Regions from separate parts of the Homo sapiens genome. Here region 1 is linked to region 2. The links come from fine-mapping of genetic effects on gene expression. Tissue or cell type: whole blood. Region 2 holds a variant in brackets; the other region holds the start of a gene. All regions are shown on one strand. Distances are between the middles of the regions.

The links. PIP is the estimated chance that this variant, and not a neighbour inherited with it, causes the effect.
Region 1: PPT1 starts here. The variant in region 2 is fine-mapped to the expression of PPT1 in whole blood (TOPMed, PIP above 0.99).

The regions. Positions count from the first base shown.
Region 1 is chr1:40,093,444-40,101,549 of GRCh38, reverse strand. It overlaps PPT1 (palmitoyl-protein thioesterase 1), which reads left to right and starts at 4,298. Exons shown (of 9, transcript NM_000310.4): 1 at 4,298-4,435. The coding sequence starts at 4,312. RefSeq lists an enhancer at 4,434-4,563.
Region 2 is chr1:40,120,604-40,128,709 of GRCh38, reverse strand. No RefSeq gene overlaps it. Among named protein-coding and RNA genes, the nearest start is that of PPT1, 27 kb to the right of the region's middle. The variant G/C (reference allele first, on the strand shown) is at 4,037.

The DNA of each region.
Region 1 (8,106 bases), 27 kb after region 2:
ATTTAAGATACTGACGTTTTTTTGCCGTGGATACAATTTTAACTTTTTAAACTTTCCTAGATATTGGTTGAAACAGAGTCTGTGAGATAGCTTTACTCCATTTTCTTAATCTAGAAGTCTAATAATTTTTAATGTGTGTATATTTTCCATTTTTATTATAAAAATTGTATATCCTTGCTGTAAAATTTCAAACCAAACACAAGTATATAAAGTAAAAAGTGAAAGTTCCTTGTAATACTGCCCTCAAGAATATTACTTTTAACGGTCTCCAGATCTTTTTAAATATTTATTTTCTTTCTTTTTTCTTTCTTTCTTTTTTTTTTTTTTAAGATGGGGTCTCGCTCTGTCGCCCAGGCTGGAGTGCAGTGGCTCGATCTTGGCTCACTGCAAGCTCCGCCTCCCGGGCTCACACCATTCTCCTGCCTCAGCCTCCCGAGTAGCTGGGACTACAGGTGCCTGCCACCACGCCCGGCTAATTTTTTGTATTTTTTAGTAGAGACGGGGTTTCACCGTGTTAGCCAGGATGGTCTCGATCTCCTGACCTCGTGATCCACCCGCCTCAGCCTCCCAAAGTGCTGGGATTACAGGCGTGAGCCACCGCACCCAGCCTCTTTTTTCTTGGCAATGCTTTGACCTTTCAGTGATAATGTACAAATATATAAATACACAGATGTCTTCTTTAAAAAAAGAACAGCTTTATTGAAATATATTCCACATGCCATAAAAGTCACCCATTTTATGTGTACAAACCAATGATTTTTAGTAAATTTATAGAGTTGTACAACCATCATATATGTATGTACATAAATACATAGTTATTTTCTTATGCCCTGTTTAACTTACTCTCCCAGTTCTAAAATGTACTTACCTACTTACCTATGCCCACAGCATGCCCACATGGCTAGAGGCTGCTTTTCAGAACTCTTGGGTAGTTCTGTTCCTGTCAATTGAGCTACTTGCTTACTAAATGCCTTTGGGCTTATTTTATTTATTTATTAATATATCGGTGATATTTGCTATCATAATTTAGTTAAATTTTTGAAAACATGAAATATGAGCATAAAGAGAAAAGAGATGTTTCTGTGAAAACTAAGTTGAATGCATTGGAAAAGCTTGTTAAAGGCAAGTTGTTAAAAAAAATTGTTAAAGTAACTCTGGGTCGGAAATCTGAGAGTGGAAAGTCTTCCATCTAGAATAATTTCACATCCAAACACTGTGGCTCACACCTGTAATCCCAGCACTTTGAGAGGCTGAGGCGGGAGGATCCCTTGAGCCCAGGAGTTCCAGGCTGCAGTAAGCTATGATTGTGTCACTGCAGTCCAACTTGGGGAATAGAGCAAGACCCTGTCGCAAAAAAAAAAAAAAAAAAAAAAAGTCATCATAGCACTATTCATAATAGCAAAGACATGGAATTAACCTAAGTATCCATCAACAGTAGACTGGATAAAGAAAATGTGGTAGGTATACACCATAGCATACTACACAGCCAAAAAAGGAATGAGATAATGTCCTTTGCAGCAACATAGATGGAACTGCTTAGGTCATTATCCTAAGCAAACTAATGCAGGAAAACAAAACCAAATACCACATGTTCTCACTTATAAGTGGGAGCTAAACATTAAGTACAGATGGACACAAAGAAGGGAACAACAGACACTGGGGCCTACATGAGGGTGGAAATGAAAAGTTACCTATTGGGTACTATGTTCATTATGGCAGTGACAAAATAAAACGTACACCCAACCTCCTTGACATACAACTTACCTATATAGCAAACTTGCATATGTGACCCTGAATCAAAAATAAAAAACAAAAAGAATGTTGGTCTGGCACAATGGCTCACAGCTGTGATCCTAGAACTTTGGGAGGCTGAGGGGGGCGGATTGCCTGAGCTCAGGAGTTCGAGACCAGCCTGGGCAACATGGCGAAACCCTGTCTCTACAAAAAACACAAAAAATTAGCGGGGCATGTTGGTGGTGTGTCTGTAATCCCAGCTACTCGGGAGGCAGAGGCACGAGAATCGCTTGAACCCGGGAGGTGGAGGTTACAGTGAGCCAAGATCACGCCACTGCACTCCAGTCTGGGGGACAGAACAAGACCCTGTCTCAAAAAAAAAAAAAAATTGCATTCAGATTGCTTCACAAGTGTCTTTCAGTTATTGCTCCAGTTTAAAGAAACCTTTAAAGAAATTATAAATAGTTCATTAAAGGCAGGAAACTTCATTGAGCGGGCTATATTCACAGAAAAATCCTGAAACTACTTCAATTTGTAAGTCTTAAGTTAAAATAAAATGCTTATACAATAAGCTTATTTTTCTTAAAACAAAACTGTATACTGTACTGTATAATGCTTTATGATTCTGCATTTTTTTTTCTTTGAGACAGAGTTTCACTCTTGTTGCCCAGGCTGGAGTGCAGTAGCTCAATCTTGGCTCACTGCACCCTCTGCCTCCTGGGTTCAAGTGATTCTCCTGTCTCAGCCTCCTGAGTAGCTGGGATTACAGGCACCCACCACCATGCCCGGCTAATTTTTTGTATTTTTAGTAGAGATGGGGTTTCATCATGTTGGCCAGGCTGGTCTCAAACTCCCAACCTCAGGTGATCCACCTGCCTCAGCCTCCCAAAGTGCGCCCAGTGGATTCTGCATTTTAATCGACTTTTCAACTAACAACTTACCTCTAGTCCCAATGGCATGGAATAGAAGAGATTACAGACCGTGGGTTTGTAATCGACTTTTCTTTTACAACATATTAAGGGCATTTTTCATGTCACTTTATGTAAATTTACCTCATTTTTCTTTTTTGAGAGAGACAGGGTCTCACTGTTGCCCAGGGCAACAGCGAGATCATAGCTCAGTGCAATGGCGAGATCATAGCTCAATGCAGCCTTGAACTCCTGGGCTCAAGTGATCCTCCCACCTTAGCCTCCCCAGTAGCTAGGATTACAGGCACATACCACCACCCCTGGCTAATTAAAAAAAAATTTTTTTTTTGTAGAGATGGGGTCTTGCTATGCTGCCTGGGCTGTACTCTCTTTTTATTTATTTTTTATTCTTATTTTTTGAGACAGAGTTTTGCTCTTGTTGCCCAGGCTGGAGTACAATGGTATGATCTCAGCTTACCGCAACCTCTGCCTCCCGGGTTCAAGAGATTCTCCTGCCTCAGCCTCCTGAGTAGCTGGGATTACAAGTATGCGCCACCACACCCGGCTAATTTTGTAATTTTAGTAGAGACGGGATTTCTCCATGTTGGTCAGGCTGGTCTCGAACTCGCTACCTTAGATGATCTGCCCACCTCAGCCTCCCAAAGTGCTGGGATTACAGGAGTGAGCCACCGCGCCCGGCCCTATACTCATTTTTTATAAAACTGGCCTCATATTATTCCATTGTATAGTGGATACACTCTAATTTCTTTATAAATTATTTAAACTATTTTTTGATGTTTTGTTGAAAAAAAACTTGAGCAGGGAACTGATATTATGAAGGTGGATTGAGGGATGAATGTGGCAATAGAGCATAAAATGAATTAAAGAGGAGAGAATGGAAAAGGAAATGGTTGATGAGAGACCCTTGAAATAATCCAGCTGAGATTAGGCCAGTTAGTGGCCATGGGTTTCCCCCTCACTCTTATGCATCCAACATATGCTTTCGTCCGTCTTGAAGTCCCGACATTTCTAGAAAACACAGTTGTCTTTCTCCTCTCTACCTTAGCTCATCTCAGTCCTTCTGAATTTCATCTTTGCTTGTTGAAATCCTACCTCTCCTTCAATATCCAGAACAAACCCCACACCCTGCCATGATTGGTCCTGGCTGGAAACCGTCCCTCCTTCTTTCTTCCTTCCTCTGTGCATGTTTCTTGCAAAGGCAGTACAGGGCAGTGGTGAAGAGCAACGACTTTGGAACCACCAATTTGCTATCTCTGTGACCTTGGGCACCTTACTCAGTGCCAATTCGCAGTGCCTCAGTGTCCTCACCTGTCAGGGGGAGAAGTGCATACAGCATTGTTATGAAGAGTGAATTAGTTAAAGGTTGTAAGAATAGTGCCTGATAGCATCTGATCAGCACTGAATATATGTTAGCAATTATTTTGATTCACCGCAGAGGGCGGTCTACGAGAGCGCAGAGCCCCACTCGGCCAGCGGGGTCTGGCGGGGGACCTGTCGCGCTGAAAGCTCCAGGGTAGGGCCGACGCCCATCAGGCTGGGCATCCGTTCGGGATGCGCAGGTTGCGATCTGCAACCGGCGGCGCCACGCCCAGGCGGGCGGAGCGCGGTTCCCGGAGTCTCGCGCCCGCGGTCATGTGACACAGCGAAGATGGCGTCGCCCGGCTGCCTGTGGCTCTTGGCTGTGGCTCTCCTGCCATGGACCTGCGCTTCTCGGGCGCTGCAGCATCTGGACCCGCCGGCGCCGCTGCCGTTGGTGATCTGGCATGGGATGGGTGAGTGAGTGAGAAATTTAAAAGGGTTTGGCGATTCTCTCTCTTCCTAGCCTGGGTTCGCATCTGCAAAATGCGGGTGTAGAGGGCGAGGACGTGGTCCCACAGCACGCGGCTGCCTCGACATTTTAGGATTTGAAGGATCTGCATTGGAAAGAGAGAAGGGGAAGGAGCCGTCCCCTTCACTGGAAAGAGAGAAGGGGAAGGAAAGAGAGAGCCGCGCACGGCGTTGAAGTTTTACATGCTGTCCTTGATTAATCCTTACAGTAGTGGCGTCAGGATGCAGCATCTCTCACTTGGTCAGGCTAGGTGAGCTGCGGCTGGCTATATGACTGGCGCATCTACCCTTTTATTTATTCCTTCACACATTGAACAGAGATTTGTTAGGCACCTACAGTTCATTTACAAATTGAGTAACCCTTATCTGAAATGCTTGGGACTGGGAAGCATTTCGGATTTTTTTTTTTTTAATATTTGCATATATACAAGAGATCTGGGGGGTGGGACCCAAGTGTAAACAGGAAATTTATTTATTTTTCATATACACCTTATACACATAGCTGGAAGGTAATTTTATGCAATATTTTAAATAATTTTGTGCAACCCATCACATGAGGTCAGGTGTGGAATTTTCCACTTGTGGCATCATGTCTGCGCTGAAAAACTTTCAGATTTTGGGTTTCCCATTTTCAGATTAGGATGCTCAACCTATATTCATTTAACACAGTTATTGAGCACCTACTAGGTGCTGAGGATACAGTAGGGAACTAAACAGACTAAATTCTTTGTTCTTTTGGAACCTACTCTCCAGTAGGAGAAGCAGATTATAAAGAAATTAACAAGTAAAACATAACATATCAAATGGTGATATGTGCAACAGAGAAAAATATAGTAGGGTGTAGGATAAAAACTGGAGGTGGGGGCTTGCACTTTTAATAAAGCAAAGTTGGGAAAGAATTCATTGAAAAAGTGACATCTGAGTACAAAACTGAGGTAGATGAGGACAGTTGCCATTTGGCTGTCTGGTAGAAGGAACAGTAAATGGGAAAGCCCTGATGTGGAAGTATGTCTGGTGTGTTCAAGGGACAGCATTCAGATCAGCGTGGCTGGAAATGAGTAAGCAAGGGGAAGAAGTTAGGAGTTTAGTTTGGAAGGGAGGGGCAGGTACAGAAGTTATTGGGCCTAGTAAGACTAATGCAGGGACTTTGGCTAGAGTGTCATGGGGAACTTTTTGAGCAGATGAGTGACATGATCTGACACATTTTTAAAGAATCACTTTAGTTGCTGTATTAAGAATAGATCGTAGGGCGTCATGGATGGTCACAGGGAGACAGGTTAGGAAACTATTGCAATAATTTAAACAAGAGATGATGACTTGGAACTGTAGAGTAACAGTAGAGGTGTTGAGAAGTGGTCAAAGTTTGGATAGATTTTGAAGGTGGATTGCTAACAGATCAGACTTGGAATAAGAGAGAAAGAAAGGAGCCAAAGATGACTCCACAGGTTTTGGCCTGAACAATTGGAAGGGTGAAGTTTTCATTTTACCAAGATGGGGAAGCCTGTAGGACAAGCTGACTTAGGGTGGGGGAAAGATCAAGAGTCTGCTTTTGGGCTTACTAAACTTGAGATCCTCATGAGACACCCAGGAGATGTTGTAGAGGCATTTGGAGTGTGGAGTCTAGGACAGAGATACGGGTTGGAGATTTAAGTAGGGAGTCTTCGGCATACAGCTAGTAGTTAAAGGCTAGGTGAGACCACCTAGGAAATGAGCGTACACAGAGGACTAAGCCCTGAGGCACTCCATTCCATTTGGAGGTGGAGGAAATGAGGAGAAACTAGCAAAGGAGGCTGTAACCAAATAGCCGGTGAAGTGGAGGGGTCAGGAAAGCGCAGTGTCCTTGAAGCCAAGTGAAGAAAATGTTTCAGGAAGAAGGGCATGATCAACTGCATCAAATGTTGATAGGTCATGATCAACTGTATCAAATGTTAATGGGTCAAGGAAGATAAAGGCTGACAACTGATTATTGGATTTAGCAATATAAAGATGATTAATCTTGACAAAAGCAGTTTTGGGAGAGTCGTGATAGTGAGATCTTTATTGGGATGGGTTACAGAAAAATATTCAGAGTAATTAGAGTCAGCAAATACAAACACTTGCAAGGTTCTCCAACAGGCCCTGGGGCTACTACAGTGGGGTCAAAAGAGGACACAGGGTAGGAGCTTTGTGTTTTCCCAGAGCTCACAGTCAGTTACAGGGGAGGCAGAGGCAGTTAAGTAACCTACAATTACAGCTCAGTGTGGAGAACGTTGTTTTCAGAGAAATAAAAGGAATAGACAATTCTCTAGGCAGTAGCCTTTTCTTGTTCTAAAATTGGTGCTTAAGCTTTCTCGCAGGTTGAAAATGGAATAAGTAAGTTCAAAATGGGAAATGATCTCAGTCCACTTCTACTCAGTAGCCAGTTTGCTTCCTGTTCCTAGTTCTAGTTCCCTGAAATAGAAGAAACAAGTCTGGGGCTAGGACAAGATGAAGAGGCTCCTGAAGTGCAAATTTAAGGAGGCACTCACTCTCAAATTCAGGGTCAACACTTACATAAACCTGAGAATGAGTGCCTCCTTAAATTTTGTGCCCTAGAGCGGGGGTCCCAAACTCCCTGGGTCTGTGACCTGTTAGGAACTAGCCACACAGCAGGAGGTGAGTGAGCCTGCAGCCTTACCACCATGAGCTCTACCTCCTGTCAGATCAGCAGTGGCATTAGATTCTCAAAGAGCTCAAATGCTGTTGTGAACTGCGCATGTGAGGGATCTGGATTGGGTGCTCCTTATGAGAATCTAGCAAATGCCTGATGATCTGAGGTGGAACAGTTTTGAAAAATTGTCTTCCACAAACCTGGTCCCTGGTGCCAAAAAGGTTGAAGACCGCTGTCCTAGATGCTTAATTTGCCTCACCCTAGTCCTGGCCCTGAAGAGAAAACTTTGCATCTGTTCACCCCAAATATCCCCTGTGATAGGGGAAGGGAATGTGTACCTCTGCTTATTTTTCATTTGTAAATTTGGTGTCTTAATTATCCTATATGGGCTTTTTGGTTTTTTTGAGACAGGGTCTCGTTATGTTGCCCAAACTGGTCTCGAACTCTTGGCCTCAAGCAATCCTCCTGCCTCGTCTTACCAAAGCGCTGGGATGATAGGTATGAGCCCATGCTTGGCCTATATGGATTTTTTTTTTTTTTTTTTTTTGAGATGGAGCCTTGTTCTGTTGCCCAGGCTGGAGTGCAGTGGCATGATCTTGGCTCACTGAAACCTCCACCTTTCAGTTTCAAGCGATTCTCCTGCCTCAGCCCCCCAAGTAGCGGGACTACAGACATGTGCCACCACACCCGGCTAATTTTTGTATATTTAGTAGAGATGGGGTTTCACCATGTTGCCCAGGCTGGTCTCGAGCTCCTGACCTTGTGATCCACCCACCTCGGCCTCCCAAACTGCTGGGATTACAGACGTGAGCCATGACACCCAGCTCCTGTATGGACTTTTGAAGCTTGTTATTACTTGATAAACAGGAGCTAAGCAAAAAATGTTCTTTCTTCTGTTTTTTAAAATTGAGGTAAAAATTCATGTAAAGTTAACCATTTAAAATGGTACGATTCAGTGGCATTTAGTGTATTTGCAATGTTGTGCAA
Region 2 (8,106 bases):
ATCCCAAATTTCCAAAAGACATTTTAAAACCAAGTATTTATTAAAAATCTAAATTATATATTGTAAATTATACCTAATAGCACTTTCTTTCTTTCTTTCTTTTTTTTTTTTTTTTGAGATGGAGTCTCGCTCTGTCACCCAGGCTGGAATGCAATGGTGAGATCTCGGCTCACTGCAACTCCTGCTCCCCATGTTCAAGCGATTCTCCTGCCTCAGCCTCCTGAGTAGCTGGGATTACAGGCATGAAGCCACCACACCTGGCTAATTTTTGTATTTTTAGTAAAGGCAAGATTTCACCACGTTGGCCAGACTGGTCTCAAACTTCTGACCACAGATGATCTGCCCACCTCAGCCTCCCAAAGTGCTGGGATTACAGGTGTGAGGCACTGCCCTCGGCCAATAATACACTCTTAACTCTAGACAAGACTTTTTGAAAATTCATGGATTAGTCTCTTACACTCCTGACATCCTCCATCTCTGACTTTAGTTTTCAGTTTTTGGTTGAGACAGGTCTTGCTCTGTCACCCAACCTGTAGTGCAGTGGTGTGATCGTAGCTCATTACAGCCTCAAACTCTTTGGCTCAAGCAATCCTCCCATCTCAGCCTCCAGAGTAGCTGAGACTACAGGCATGCGCCACTATACCCAGCTTTTTCTTTCTTGGCGGGGAGCAGGGGTAGATACAGGGTCTTGCTTTGTTGCCCAGACTGGTTCTCAACTCCTGGCCTCAAGCAATTCTCCCACCTCAGCCTTCCAAAGTGCTGGGATTATAGGTGTAAGCTGCCACACCTGTCCGCTTGAGTCTGAGAGGCAGAGGTTGCAGTGAGCAGAGATCACACCAATGCACTCCTGCCTGGGCAACAGAGTGAGACTCTGCTCAAAAAAAAAGTAAGATAACTTAAGATTATTGTTATTATTTTAGAGCAGGGTCTCACTATGTTGCCCAGGCTGGAGTTCAGTGGCTATTTACAGGCATAATCACAATACGCGACAGCCTCAAACTCCTGGGCATAAGTGATCCTCCCGCTTCAGCCTCTGGAGTAGCTGGGACTACAGGTGCACGCCACCACGCCCAACTATTCTACTGTTTTGCTCAATACATGGCTCCTAGTTAATACAACTAGTTTGGCACATTTATATTGTCTTGAACTGAAATTTGAGTATTTTCTTTTCAGTATCTAAATATGGAGATGTTGCCTACAACTTTTAATTTAAATTCCCAGATATGGTACAATTTTCTTTCCTGTCCTTTTTAGCGGTATTCCTCAAAAAAAAAAAAAAAAAAAGAAGAAGTAGAGAACTATTAAGTTATATTGATAAATCTGACACCATAGAAGCACAAAATCTTGGAGCTGAAAGAATTGCCAAAAAGAAGCAGGGAGTGGTGGCTCACACCTGTAATCCCAGCCCTTTGGGAGGCCAAGGCGAGCAGATCACTTGAGGCCAAGAGTTCGAGATCAGCCTGGCCAACATGGTAAAACCCCATCTCTGCTAAAAATACAAAAATTAGCTGGGCATGGTGGCAAGCTTATAAGTTTATAATCTCAGCTGCTCCGGAGGCTGAGGCAGGAGAATTGCCTGAACCCGGGAGGGGAGGTTGCAGAGAGCCGAGAGCATGCCACTGCACTCCAGCCTAGGTGACAGAGCCAGACTCTGTCTCAAAAAAAAAGAATTGATAAAAATAATTTATTCCATCACTCCCTACCCCCATTTGTTGTTGTCATTGTTGTTTATTTTTGAGACTGAGTCTTACTCTGTTGCCCAGACTAGAGTGCAGTGGTGCAATCTTGGCTCACTGCAACCTCTGCCTCCCAGGTTCAAGTGATTCTCCTGTCTCAGCCTCCCGAGTAGCTGGGATTACAGGTGCCTGCCATCACGCCCAGCTAATTTTTGTATTTTTAATAGGTGAGCCACCTCACCTGACCTAGACTTTTTTATTTACAAAACTGGGGGTATGGCTGTAATCCCAGCACTTTAGGAGGCCTAGCCAGACAGATTATGTGAGTCTAGGAGTTCGAGGCCAACCTGGGCAACATGGCAAAGCCCTGTCTCAAAAAAAAAAAAAAAAAAAGCTGGGCTCGGTGGCTCATGTCTGTAATCTCAGCACTTTGGGAGGCCGAGGAGGGTGGATCACTTGAGGTCAGGGGTTTGAGACCAGCCTGGCCAACATGGTGAAACCCTCGTCTCTAGTGAAAATACAAAAATTACCCAGGTGTGGTGGCATGTTCCTGTAATCCCAGCTACCGGGAAGGCTGAGGCAGGAGAATCGCTTGCACCTGGGAGATGGAGGTTGCAGTGAGTCAAGATCACACCACTGCACTCCAGCCTGGGCGACAGAGTGAGACTGTCTCAATTAAAAAAAAAACTTATAAGATGATCTGGCTCCTACTGTTGGTCTGCACTTTATGCTGCACTTATTTCTCATAAGTAAAGATTTTTATGTCAATAATTTATGACTTATTAAATAGATTTATCTGTGTTCTAATTCATAAAAAACAAAGGTATTTGAATCCACTTACGTCAAGAACACAAAAAATAAAGTAGAAATGAAGATGGGACATTATGGTCATTAAGAAAACCAGGCACCCAGCTTTGGGTACAGAAGTCTGCAGTCCTTGGACATCTTGACCTGATTTATCTTCTTTCTGTTTCTATGTTTCTTTGTTTTTCTTTCAGTAATATTGTACAATCTCCTCTTTGCAGTATGGAGAATTGTTGGAAAACGTTCTCAGAATTTATTTTCTCTTGGTATATTGCTAAATATTGGGGAAGGAACAGCCTTGTTGTATGTGGTATCGGTGTTCTTTTTTATGTCTTTTTTATTTTATTTTATTTTTTAAGAAATATTTTTTTAAAAATAAAAATAAAATTAGAGACGGAGTCTTGCTATGTTGCCCAAGCTGGTCTCGAACTCCTGGGCTCAAGTAATCCACCCACCTCAGCCTCCTAAAGTGCTAGGATTACAGACATGAGCCACTGTACCCAGCTGGTATCAGGTATTTTTGAGTGTCCATCTGAGAGCATTACCAAGGCTTATGGGAAGATGCTACGTGTTGCATTCCAAGCAACATGTATTTGCTTGGAATGTTTGTTCCAAAACATTCCAAGCATCAAGATCTCACAAGAAGGTAAGGCAGCAAACACCTCTTAATTTGGACAAAATGTCTTCCTCTTCCCAGCTCTCTCAGTCAAAAATATCCTCCACCCACTACTGCCTATAAACTACTGATTATGGCACTTGATTGTGATGGAGAAGGGGCACTGGACTGGGATGGAATGGTTTAGTATGTGCAGGCTGAGGCCATTAAAATCCTTTGCAAAAGTTGATTCCTCAGAACTGTGTCTGACCCCGAGATGCCATTGTGCCTCATGAGCTCCTAAAGTCTCCTAAGACCTTGCAAGCTATATGTAGCAGTCAGGTTAGGTTCTTTGGCTCTGTAGTCAGAATTACTAGCTTCAAATTCTGTTTCTTATTAGTTGTCTCACTTTGCCCTTAACTTCATGTCTTGGTTTCTACATTGAAAATTGAGGATGATTGAGCTCACTTCGTAAGGTGGTTGAATTTAATTAACTAACTAAATTAGTTAATTTTCATAACCTCTAAGAAAGTTCATGGTTCATAGTAAGTGCTCAATAAATGTTGGTAATAATTACTGGTCTTTTCTCCCTGGTAGGTATGGCTACTAACAAATACATAGCTTTCTGGTGGTTTTGATCTGATCCACAGTGTTAAGAGCACCAACATGACAGGTAGATTCTACACTTACTCCTCCCACAGGGCCTCCTCCTTCTGACTATAATACTCTCCTGTTCGTCTCCAATCCCAGTTGTGTAACCGCCCAAGGAGTTCACCTTGCCCACTGTCTAGACAGAGCCGATTCATCAAGACAGGGGAATTGCAATACAGAAAGAGTAATTCAAGCAGAGCCTGCTGTGCGGGAGAACAGAGTTTTATTATTACTCAAATCTGTCTCCCCGAGCAGTTCTTAAGGATAATTAGCTGGGCGTGGTGGTGGGTGCCTGTAATCCCAGCTACTC[G/C]GGAGGCTGAGGCAAGGAATTGCTTGAACCCAGGAGGCGGAGGTTGCAATGAGCCAAGATCGTACCATTGCACTCTAGCCTGGGCGACAAGAGCAAAACTCTGTCTCGAAAAAAAAAAAAAGGAAACTTATGACTCCCAAATAGAAGGCATATTTGAGACCAGCTACATTCTCTAGAAGTGTTCTGTTGTGTTATTTTTGCATAGCCTGATTAAACATTTAATGCAGTTATCCAATTCTTTCTTACCTGTGGATTTTTTTTTCTCTGATGGCTATAATCATATAATTTTACTAAGGGCCATTGATCATTATAATTTAGCTTGTCTGTTTATTACAAAATGCCATTTAACTATTACTAAGTCATCACATTCTGGTAGCTGGCATAAAAATAACTCTGGGGCAGCCAGCAAACAATCAGGAATTGCTGAGGCCTGTATAGTTCAATTACTTTGAGTAAAGTCTACACATTTTGATAATTGTTATGGTGAAATAATCTTGTGTGCATTTTTTATTTTACTTAGAATAAGAGTTTGTATTTTTTCTAAGTAAATAATGAACTGTGTCTGCTTGAATAGATTCTCTTTTTTTCTAACGGCCTAGTGTTGTTAGCCAAAATGCAATAAAGCTGAGCTTCAGGATCTTAGTGCTTTTCAGGCCTGAACTGCTAGCATTTTATTTTGCTTCTGAGAAGAGAAGAGCATTCTCATCAAAGAGCATGTTTATTAATACACTGGCATATTTCGTTCCTGAGTGAGACAAGAGAATTAAGGATAGAAGAAATTTCAGTTCTTTCAAATCCACCCACAAGAAACAATTGAATGGAGCCCTCCTAACATGAGGCTATTTTAAGAAGGGGAAGTATGCTTATTTATTGGGTACCAATAGACAAAGGAGTAAGCAATGACCCAACAGCCTCATTCTCCCTAATTGCCCATCCTTCTCCTAGCAGTGTTCTCCCTCAGGATGGAGGTGCCTGGAAGTGCTGCTAGTGGCCACTCCTGAACCACAGACTATCCTGGGTTAACATCTTCAGTTGTATATTCAGAAGGAAAAAGCCAAGGACCCATCTGTGGTCTCAGGGTATCATCTGAACAAGCAATATACACCCAGCGAAGAACACTCTGTCCCCTTAGAGAGTTTCCAGTCCTTTCCCACATAAACAGACTAACACCTGCACTCCTTGCCTCATCTTCAGGGCACGTCTGTCACAAACAGAACTTTCAGAAATCCTTTATGAAGGTATAGACTTCAAACTCCTGTGAGTTTGGTTATTATGAGTCTACTCTTTGAGCCTAATCCTCTTTGGGCACACTGACAGAGCTCAGACCCTGGGCTAGGAAGTCCCTGTTTGGCCAGCTTGTCAGCCTCTTTTGCTGTCATCCCTAGTTCACTTAAATGGAACTGCAAGAGTTACAACATTCTGTATATTTCAATTAACATTACTGTACTAGGGAAAGTAGTGATGCTTTCTTTCCAGTTGGAGATTTATTGTCTCTAAATTGGGGGTCTTCTCAATCCAAGTTTGCCCTGTGAACATGTTGTGAAATTGTCATCTGAAGCAGGCCCCTCAAAGATGGTTGAGAAGCCTTGCATTTTCCTGAAGAGCAGAGGACACTGTTTATCTTGGCAGAATTCCAAGCCCAATCAGTAGATATGAAAAGCAAGAAGAAAGGAGCATGTGTTCAAAGTTTTTCTTATCAAGTCTTTAGAGTGCAGGCCCTGGGAAAAATGCTGCAGGTACATTAGGATGGAAAGACTATGTTGGGAGAAGGCCCTTGGCTAATGAGAACATAGGTCTGGTAGAATATTGAGGAGCCCTTTAAGGAGAAAACAATTAGCTTTTTCAAAGCTTTCCTTTTAGAGACCAACTCACTATTATTAGTAAATTAAGACATACTAAGAAATAGATTATTCAAGAAAAAGGACTTCAGCCACAGAAGTAAAATGGGCAGAGTTAGAGCAAGAGGGAGCAAATATTCAATAGGAAGCAAAGAGTAAACAATACATGCATTCGTTGCTAGTAATAAGGTAAAAAATGCAAGAGAAAGCACATTAAGGGTTCTATTTGACCTTTCTCAAATAAAGAAAACTGTATTTAAAATAGTAGCCCCCATTTCTGATGAGATTGTGATAAAATTGAGGTGAGGATAGGAATGAAAATAGGAATACCATTTGGGAAAACAAAATAGCCATAATTAGCAAAAGGCTTTTATTGAGTGTATAGTTCAATGACTTTTAATATATTTGCAGAGTTGTACAACCATTACCACAATCTAGAAACAGTCTTGAAAATATTAATATCCTTGAAATTACTCCTGGATCAAGAATTAATAATAACAGCAGTTGTTATTCTGTATAGAGTACTAACTCAGAACCAAGCACTTTACATGTAATTTATTCATTTCAATTCTCACAACAATCCTATGAGGAAGGTGTTATTAGTGACCCTTCTTGATAAATGAAATACTGAGATATAGAGAAGTTAAGAAATTTGCCCAAACTACCATGGATAGTGTTAAAAACCAGATCATCTCTTTCCAGAACCTATACACATAAGCAACTACTACACTATAAGGAAATAATACAACAAAAGTAAAAAGCTCCATGCAGGAAGAGTTAATTACAGAATTCTGTAAGATCCAATAATGGGCATAAGTTAAATGGTCTACAATCCACAAAGAATAGGTTTAGTAGATTTTGGTGTGTCTGCTACTCAGCCATAAAAAGGAAAATAGTAGACCCTGTACAAATAAGGAAAATATTTATGATATTCAATAGCACAGTATAGTAGTTGTTGGATGAATGAATAAGCCAGCATAGCCCCTGCCTTCTTCAATATCAGTCCTTCACAAATGATCTTCAATTGCTATATACCCAGGGCCAAACCCAGTGTCTTCAATGCACGGGGCTCTCCAAGTGGCTGTGGGGTGGTAAGATCTCTTCACTGGGTGAGCCACAGGAAATGACTCCAATAGTCAGGTTCCTTCTGAGCTAAGACCTGGCTGGGCATTGGAGATGTTCTCCAAGGACAAAGGTATTTGTTTTTGTTTTTGTTTTTGTTTTTTGAGATGGAGTCTGTGTCGCACAGGCTAGAATGCAATGGCGCAATCTTGGCTCACTGCAACCTCAACCTCCTGAGTTCAAGCAATTCTCCTGCCTCAGAGTAGCTGAGATTACAGGCACGCGCCACCACGCCTGGCTAATTTTTGTATTTTTAGTAGAGACAGAGTTTCACCATGTTGGCCAGGCTGGTCTCAAACTCCTGACCTCAAATGATCCGCCTGCCTTGGCCTCCCAAAGTGCTGGGATTACAGGCATGAGCCACCGTGCCCAGCCCCCAAGGACAAAGTTTTGATGGTGTCCTCTGTGTCTGCAAAATATTGAAAAGACACCTGCATGTGAACAAAATCTGGAAGACAGTATGCAAAAAATTAAAACAGTTGCAATGTTTGCTGGAAGAATTGTAGGAGGTTACTTACTTTTAAAATTTTTTCTGCAATGTTGTTACACTATCTTTTTCAGCAATGTTTTGAAGAAAAGGGATCTCCTTGATCTTCATCTTGATGTTCCTAAGACAAAAGCCAAATCAATGAATGACTCATTGCTGGCCACATCTGACCCAAATGTTAGACACTGACAAGACTCCATCCTCCAAAGAATATCTTGGTTAGAAGTATTTAATTGTTCTAGGTTCTGGAGATATGGCAAAGCATAAGATTGAATCCCTGCTCTCTCAAAGCTTACATACTAGAACTGTGTTGTCCAGTACAGTAGCCACTGGCCACATGTGGCTATCTAAATTTAAATCAGTTAAAATTAAATTAAATTAAATTAAAAATTCTTTTACTCATTCACACTAGCCACATGTCAAGTGCATAGGAGTCATATGGTAACTAGTGGCTACTATATTGGACAGCTCAAATATAACAATACTTCCATCATTGCAGAAAATTCTACTGGTTAGTCCTCCTTTAGACAGAAGAGTTTGATAATAATCAAGTAAACAAAAATGGACAAGAGTAAACATTGCTCTGAAGAAAATAAAAAACAGTGCTGCCTTGTATTGTAGAC